Linked DNA regions of Homo sapiens. Changing the gene in region 1 together with any one later gene gives a genetic interaction. Each region holds a gene or a part of one and is shown on either strand. Other genes may lie near its edges. The genes, in order: SPANXC and FLT3.

What was found.
Region 2: changes in SPANXC (region 1) and FLT3 together harm fitness less than expected from each alone (positive genetic interaction), as found in Homo sapiens cells (one study listed by BioGRID).

What each region holds. Positions count from the first base shown.
Region 1 is NC_000023.11:141,240,740-141,243,902, reverse strand, and holds SPANXC (sperm protein associated with the nucleus on the X chromosome C), read left to right. Parts: upstream 1-1,385; 5' UTR 1,386-1,445; coding exon 1,446-1,517; intron 1,518-2,164; coding exon 2,165-2,386; 3' UTR 2,387-2,440; downstream 2,441-3,163.
Region 2 is NC_000013.11:28,002,548-28,006,676, reverse strand, and holds the end of FLT3 (receptor-type tyrosine-protein kinase FLT3 precursor), read left to right. Parts: intron 1-2,502; coding exon 2,503-2,625; 3' UTR 2,626-3,403; downstream 3,404-4,129. UniProt on the Homo sapiens protein: Tyrosine-protein kinase that acts as a cell-surface receptor for the cytokine FLT3LG and regulates differentiation, proliferation and survival of hematopoietic progenitor cells and of dendritic cells.

The DNA.
Region 1 (3,163 bases):
GAGTTACTGCTTTGGTTAAATGAATGACTTATTTTACAATGACCCATGACCCTATTTCGTGATATCAAGCATTTTAAACTTTTTATCTTTGACGAACTTTCCAAAGTCAAATTCTAACTTGATTCCTCATTAATTTTTTGATATGAGTCCTCTGAAGTCCAAAAGAGACATATTGGTCTTATTTGGTATAAAAATCATACAAGAAGCATCGTCAAATATAAAATGCTGTTTGACTTTCTTTGGGCTGTATTTATAGAAATGTCATTGATATGTGCTCCAAAATTATGGGAAACTCTTATACTTCTGAAATAACTTGTGTATGTTATTAATTATAACTTTTATGTTAAATTCTTGTATGCTACAGAAGTAACCAAAATTTACTTGTCAATGGTGGTTTTAATAATGGCTGTCCTGGCTGGGTGTGGTGGCTCACGCCTGTAATCCCAGCACTTTGGAGGCCAAGGCGGGTGGATCACGAGGTCAGGAGTTCAAGACCAGCTTGGCCAAGATGGTGAGACCCCCGTCTCTCCTAAAAATACAAAAATTAGCCGGGCGTGGTGGCACAGGCCTGTAATCCCAGCTACTCAGGAAGCTGAGCCAGAGAATCACTTAAACCCAGGAGGCAGAGGTTGCAGTGAGCTGAGATCATGCCATTGCACTCCAGCCTGGGCAACAACAGTGAAACTCCATTTCAAAAAGAGAAAAAAATATACACCCCTGATTTGAAACAAGACTAGGATACACGGTAAAGAATGTTTATTCACTAAAGTTTTGACAGACTGAAGGCCATTATTTCAGATTGGAGATAGGAAACTTAAAAGAACTACATGGACATTGGGTAAAAGAACATGGGTTGAAATTTGCCTGGCAGTAGCCCAAAAGTAAATGGTCTTCGAGGTGCATGTGAAGGAACTGTAGGAGGGAAATGGGATAATTCACATCTCTGCCAATAAATAAATGTAGCCACACTAGCTTGGGGGATTTGAGGTGAGACATCGAAAATACTAAGTCATGGTGAGGGCTGGAAGACAAAAGAATGAATCACTTAATAGGAATGGCTGTGGGGAAGGGCTTGAAGGAATCATCCTCTGACTTCCATGTGAACCGTGAACATTAAACATGGAGAAATGAGGAGCGGCGGCAGATCGGTTTGGGATGCATCTTCAGGGGATGCTGAAACAACAACAGCATTTGGTTTGCTCTACACCCCTGTCACCCCTCGCCCGCAAGCCCAGGGAGTGGTCAGCAGTGGGGCTTTGTGATGTGAAGCCACCCTAGGGCTGCCATTGGCTGGGACACTGCCTGTATGATCAAACAAAGCTCAAGGGTGTGGCTTTGCCTTGTCACCAGGAGGGTATATACAGGGAGGGCAAGAGCTCCGGGCCACTGCGAAGATTCAAAACCTACAAAAGCCTGCCGCTGACATTGAAGAACCAATATATACAATGGACAAACAATCCAGTGCCGGCGGGGTGAAGAGGAGCGTCCCCTGTGATTCCAACGAGGCCAACGAGATGGTAAGACTGTTAGGTTTTGAATTGAAGGCGAGGGTGAAAGAAAGACACACAGAGCGGGGGCGGCTCAAACAACAACACAGGAATATTGCAGACCATTGTGGAAGTGGGGGGCCCGCTTAATGCCAGAGCCCACCGCCGCTTACAGGCTGGGGTGCTTGTAGGTAGGGGTGGGAGGGGCCTGGGCAGTATGGCTTGCTGCCCGGCAGGATATTGATAAGATGTTCTTATGATCAGGTGGTTTGGCCCTTTTTCTGGTGGAATATCATTGTGGTGTTCCTTAGAACGCTGCCAAGCAAGATATGATAGGGATGTTTCTTCAGTTGGGCCTTTGTCCGCCTTGCGGACAGGTGGTTAGGCAGGATGTTTCTCACGGCCTGAACCCCCATGGGATGTTTCACTTTGACCAAGGTCTGCAAAATAGCAAAGAACTGACAAAATGGTGCAGTTTGGACTCACAGGTGACCCTACCCACGCTCCTCTTCTTCTTCCCCATAGATCCCTACTCTGTGCTTCAACCTTCTTCTTCTCTGGATCAAACCCCTTCCTCAACCCGCATTCCTTCTTCTCATGAAGCCCCCTTGCTATCCAGTCTCTATCCTGTTCACCCAAAATAATGTCCTCCTGGCCTCTCCCTGCTTTCTTAACAGATGCCGGAGACCTCGAGTGGGTACTCAGACCCGCAACCTGCTCCGAAAAAACTAAAAACATCTGAGTCCTCGACCATACTAGTGGTTCGCTACAGGAGGAACGTGAAAAGAACATCTCCAGAGGAACTGGTGAATGACCACGCCCGAGAGAACAGAATCAACCCCCTCCAAATGGAGGAGGAGGAATTCATGGAAATAATGGTTGAAATACCTGCAAAGTAGCAAGAAGCTACATCTCTCAACCTTGGGCAATGAAAATAAAGTTTGAGAAGCTGATGGCTGTGTATATCTCTGCCTGTTTTCTGATGGTGGCGGGGGAAGGGAAGGGAAGGGAAGAGGTAGGCATTTGAGAAGGGAGGGATATGAGGTCCTGTAGGGTTGGTGGACAGACCCACAGGTTGACAGTAAGCCAGACATTGTAAATAAGGCCTGGGGGAGGACTGATTCCTAAAGAAAATTTTCTTCTTAAAATTTTATCTCACAGGAAGTGGAGATGTGTATATGTTCACGCAACTGTACCCGGCAGCACATAGTTCTGCTGAATGTACATATCAAAGGTATTCCCATCCCCTTTCCATTTGATATTTTCCTAGGCTAGAAATAGATGCTTTATAAAGCGTAAATGTTCTGTAAAACACAAAGCACAATACAAAAGAAGATAGTAGATGTAGGAGTAAGTAAACGGCAGGAAAGCATTGCTTGTGATGAAATGATTGAAAAGCCAATTCTAAAACAAAATGTTCAATGCATCTTAAATATTTGTTAGTGTTTTAATGACCTCAGCAGTCTTTAATCAAGATAAGTATGCTTTAGAAATGTGTTGATATCCGCAAAGTGTGAATATTCAAAATCGCCATGACTTGGGAAAAGGAAAGTAAAACACTCTTAAGTATGAGGAGCTTTTTCCCATGGAATGTGAACTGCAAGGTGGTGAGAAGGGTTAGGTGTGATGTGGTGAGATCATTTTTAGGAGAGTGTGTCTATTATCGGCTTCCTAAC
Region 2 (4,129 bases), on another chromosome or scaffold:
CCCAGTAACTAGCTATGGGAGTGGAGAGAGATTGTCAGAGATGGTTCTAGAAACTTCTAGACAGTGAGACTGGATGAAGAGCACATGTTAGTTAATTCAGGTGGAAGATTGGAAGTGTTATTGGTATTTGTGCTACACAAACTTCATGAGGTGGTTAGAAATTCAGTGGTAGAGATGTACATTTGGATTCAACAGGTTCAACAAATGCTAACTAACTGCTATGTCTACTTCACAAAAGGCACGCATGAGTAGTTACTGTTCATCCTTCAGGGTACAAGCAAAGCTGTCATTGTGCAACACCTGGTTCACAATGGATATATTTTGGGTCAAAGGATACACACACACACACACACACACACACACACACACAATTTTCTAGAAAGAAAAGTGAAGTGTAGGAGGCAGTCTGGACAGTTCACATTAAAACTGTCAAAAACAAAGAAAAAGAAGTAGACAGTAACAAGGGCTGTGGGAACGGAACAAATCTATAAAATTTAAATAGAATGCATGATTCCTAAATCATAAAGTTCTTATAAACAAATAATAATAAAAATGTATCACCTTTTAAAAACTTATTTCTTTTAGAGACAGGATCTTGCTATGTTGGTTAGTTTGGTCTTGAACTCTTGGCCTCAAGCAATCCTCCCGCCCCGGCCTCCCAAAGTGCTAGGATTACAGAGTTGAGCCAGTACACCCAGCCTGTATAGCCTTTTATATACATAAAAGGCAAAGGAAATAGGCAGGCTATTCAAAATGAAAACAAATGGACATAAAGTATAGGAAAAAGGCCCAACTTTGCAGATAGTGAAACATATATAGTTAAGGAGATAGAACTTCTTGCTCAGCAAAAGAGAAGAGATGTGGGAGGCTGACATACCCATTGTTCAGAAGGCTCTGGAAAATATAGTTTCCAGGCACCGTTGATAGGAGTAGAAATAAATACAACCTTTCTGCAGGGCAGCCTGGCCTTGTGTATCACAGTTCAAGTGTGCATCCTTTTTGATCCAGCAATTCCACTTCTGCTTATCCCAACGTCAGACTAGATTGAGTGTGCACTTTTCAGTTTGTTTCGTATAACCAGTTGGTCAAAAGGTTAATTATGATGCATCAGTACTATGGAACTCTAGGCTGCCGTGAAAAAAAAATATGTGGCCATCCTTAGTGAATAATGTAAATATGTGACACAGGCAACATATGAGCAGTATAATAACAATATATTGATAATTCAAAATAAGGTTCCAAAATAGAATATATAGCCTGAGCCCACAGACACAAAATTGTGTGTGCATAGCAAGCTGTCTATAATGGCGGGTACTTGTCATGACTTGTAGCCTTTTTTCTTTTTTTTGAGATGGAGTCTTGCTCTGTCACCCAGGCTGGAGTGCAGTGGCACAATCTAGGCTCACTGCAGCCTCCACCTCCCAGGTTCAAGCAATTCTCCTGCCTTAGCCTCCCAAGTAGCTGGGACTGCAGGCGCGCGCCGCCATGCCCGGCTAGTTTTGTATTTTTAGTAGAGACAGGGTTTCTCCACGTTGGCTAGGCTGGTCCTGAACTCCCAACCCCAGGTGATCCGCCCGCCTCGGCATCCCAAAGTGCTGGGATTACAGGCATGAGCCACTGCGCCCGGCCTTCTACGTCTCTTTCTGTATTTCTCAAATTATCTATATGAATGCATGTTAACTTCATATTTGGGAAAGGAAAGTAAATCTCTTCATTTCAGAAAAAAATATTTAAAAGTCGTGAAACTCCAAGGGAAAACTCAAGAATCAGTCCCTTGTATTAACTCCATAATGAACAGATTTCCTTTTGTGGCCTTTCTCTTTTATGATTTTTCTGCATGGTTTTAGGATTTCTAGGGTGACATTTTATATCTGAGAGTAGACTCAATAATGAAATAAAATATTTGACTATGATTTGATTTCTCCATTAATAAAAGGACCAAAATTGCTTTTTTAGTTATATAGAATATCCTCTGAGACCTATGCATAATAAAAGTACTTGTCTACACGTTTCCTGAAAATATGTACATCTATTATATATCAGTTTAAACATTTTAAAAGTGATGTCTAGGCCGGGCGTAGTGGCTCACACCTGTAATCGCAGCACTTTGGGAGGCCGGGGTGGTGTGGGATCACTTGAGCCCAGGAGTTTGAGACCACCCTGGACAACATAGTGAGACTTTGTCTTTACAAAAAATAAAAAAATTAGCAGGGTGTGGTGGAGCCTGCTTGTGGTCCCAGCTACTCAGGAGGTTAAGGTGGGAGGATTGCTCAAACCCAGAACATCAAGGCCACGGTGAACTATGGTTGTACCACTGCACTCCAGTCTGGGCAACAGAGCGAGACTCTGTCTCAAAAAATAAACAAACAAACAACAAACAAACAAAAAAGTAATTGTCTATATAGAACAACTGTTTTTATTTAAATAATTTGTAATATGGGCGCATAACATGTGCATCTACATCAGATGGTAATCAGTGTTCTGTCTCTTTCCCACATTCAGATGTATCAGAATGTGGATGGCCGTGTTTCGGAATGTCCTCACACCTACCAAAACAGGCGACCTTTCAGCAGAGAGATGGATTTGGGGCTACTCTCTCCGCAGGCTCAGGTCGAAGATTCGTAGAGGAACAATTTAGTTTTAAGGACTTCATCCCTCCACCTATCCCTAACAGGCTGTAGATTACCAAAACAAGATTAATTTCATCACTAAAAGAAAATCTATTATCAACTGCTGCTTCACCAGACTTTTCTCTAGAAGCTGTCTGCGTTTACTCTTGTTTTCAAAGGGACTTTTGTAAAATCAAATCATCCTGTCACAAGGCAGGAGGAGCTGATAATGAACTTTATTGGAGCATTGATCTGCATCCAAGGCCTTCTCAGGCTGGCTTGAGTGAATTGTGTACCTGAAGTACAGTATATTCTTGTAAATACATAAAACAAAAGCATTTTGCTAAGGAGAAGCTAATATGATTTTTTAAGTCTATGTTTTAAAATAATATGTAAATTTTTCAGCTATTTAGTGATATATTTTATGGGTGGGAATAAAATTTCTACTACAGAATTGCCCATTATTGAATTATTTACATGGTATAATTAGGGCAAGTCTTAACTGGAGTTCACGAACCCCCTGAAATTGTGCACCCATAGCCACCTACACATTCCTTCCAGAGCACGTGTGCTTTTACCCCAAGATACAAGGAATGTGTAGGCAGCTATGGTTGTCACAGCCTAAGATTTCTGCAACAACAGGGGTTGTATTGGGGGAAGTTTATAATGAATAGGTGTTCTACCATAAAGAGTAATACATCACCTAGACACTTTGGCGGCCTTCCCAGACTCAGGGCCAGTCAGAAGTAACATGGAGGATTAGTATTTTCAATAAAGTTACTCTTGTCCCCACAGTCCCCTTCATTTTATTTTTATTTATTTGTTTGTTTATTTAATGTTTTAGTGACAGGGTCTCACCCTGTCTCCCAGGCTGGAGTGGAGTGGTGAGATCACAGCTCACTGCAGCCTGAAACTCCTGGCCTCAAGCGATCCTCCCACCTCAGCCTCCTGAGTGGCTGGGACTACAAGCACAGGCCACCACGCCCAGCTAATTTTTAAAATTTTTTGTAGAGATAGTGTCTTGCTATGCTGTGCAGGCTGGTCACAAATTCTTGGCCTCAAACAGTCCTCTTGCCTCAGCCTCCTAAAGTGCTGGGATTACAGGTGTGAGCCATGGCGACCAGCCCTCTTTGTCCTTTGAAGCTTAGCACCCTCCATCCTGTAGGCTTATGAACTTGGTTTGTGCCCCCGCCCCGCCCACCTCCGCTTACACGACAGGTGCCACCAAATTCTGCCTCTTCTTTCTCCTCCACCTCCTGTTGCATGTAGTGGTGAGGGACAAGGGATCTGGAACCGGTCAGCCCAGGTTGGAATTCTCTTTTCACCTGGCCTTAGCTGTGTCATTGGGGCAAGTAACTCAACTTCTCTAGCCTCAGTTTCCTTTTCTGAAAAATGGGACACTAATGGCATCTCTTTTATAGAGTTGCTGGAATAATTAGATGAATTAAATATATACGTAGCTTAGAAATATAGAAATATAGAACATAAACATATACATCATGTAGATCAATGCCTGGCAC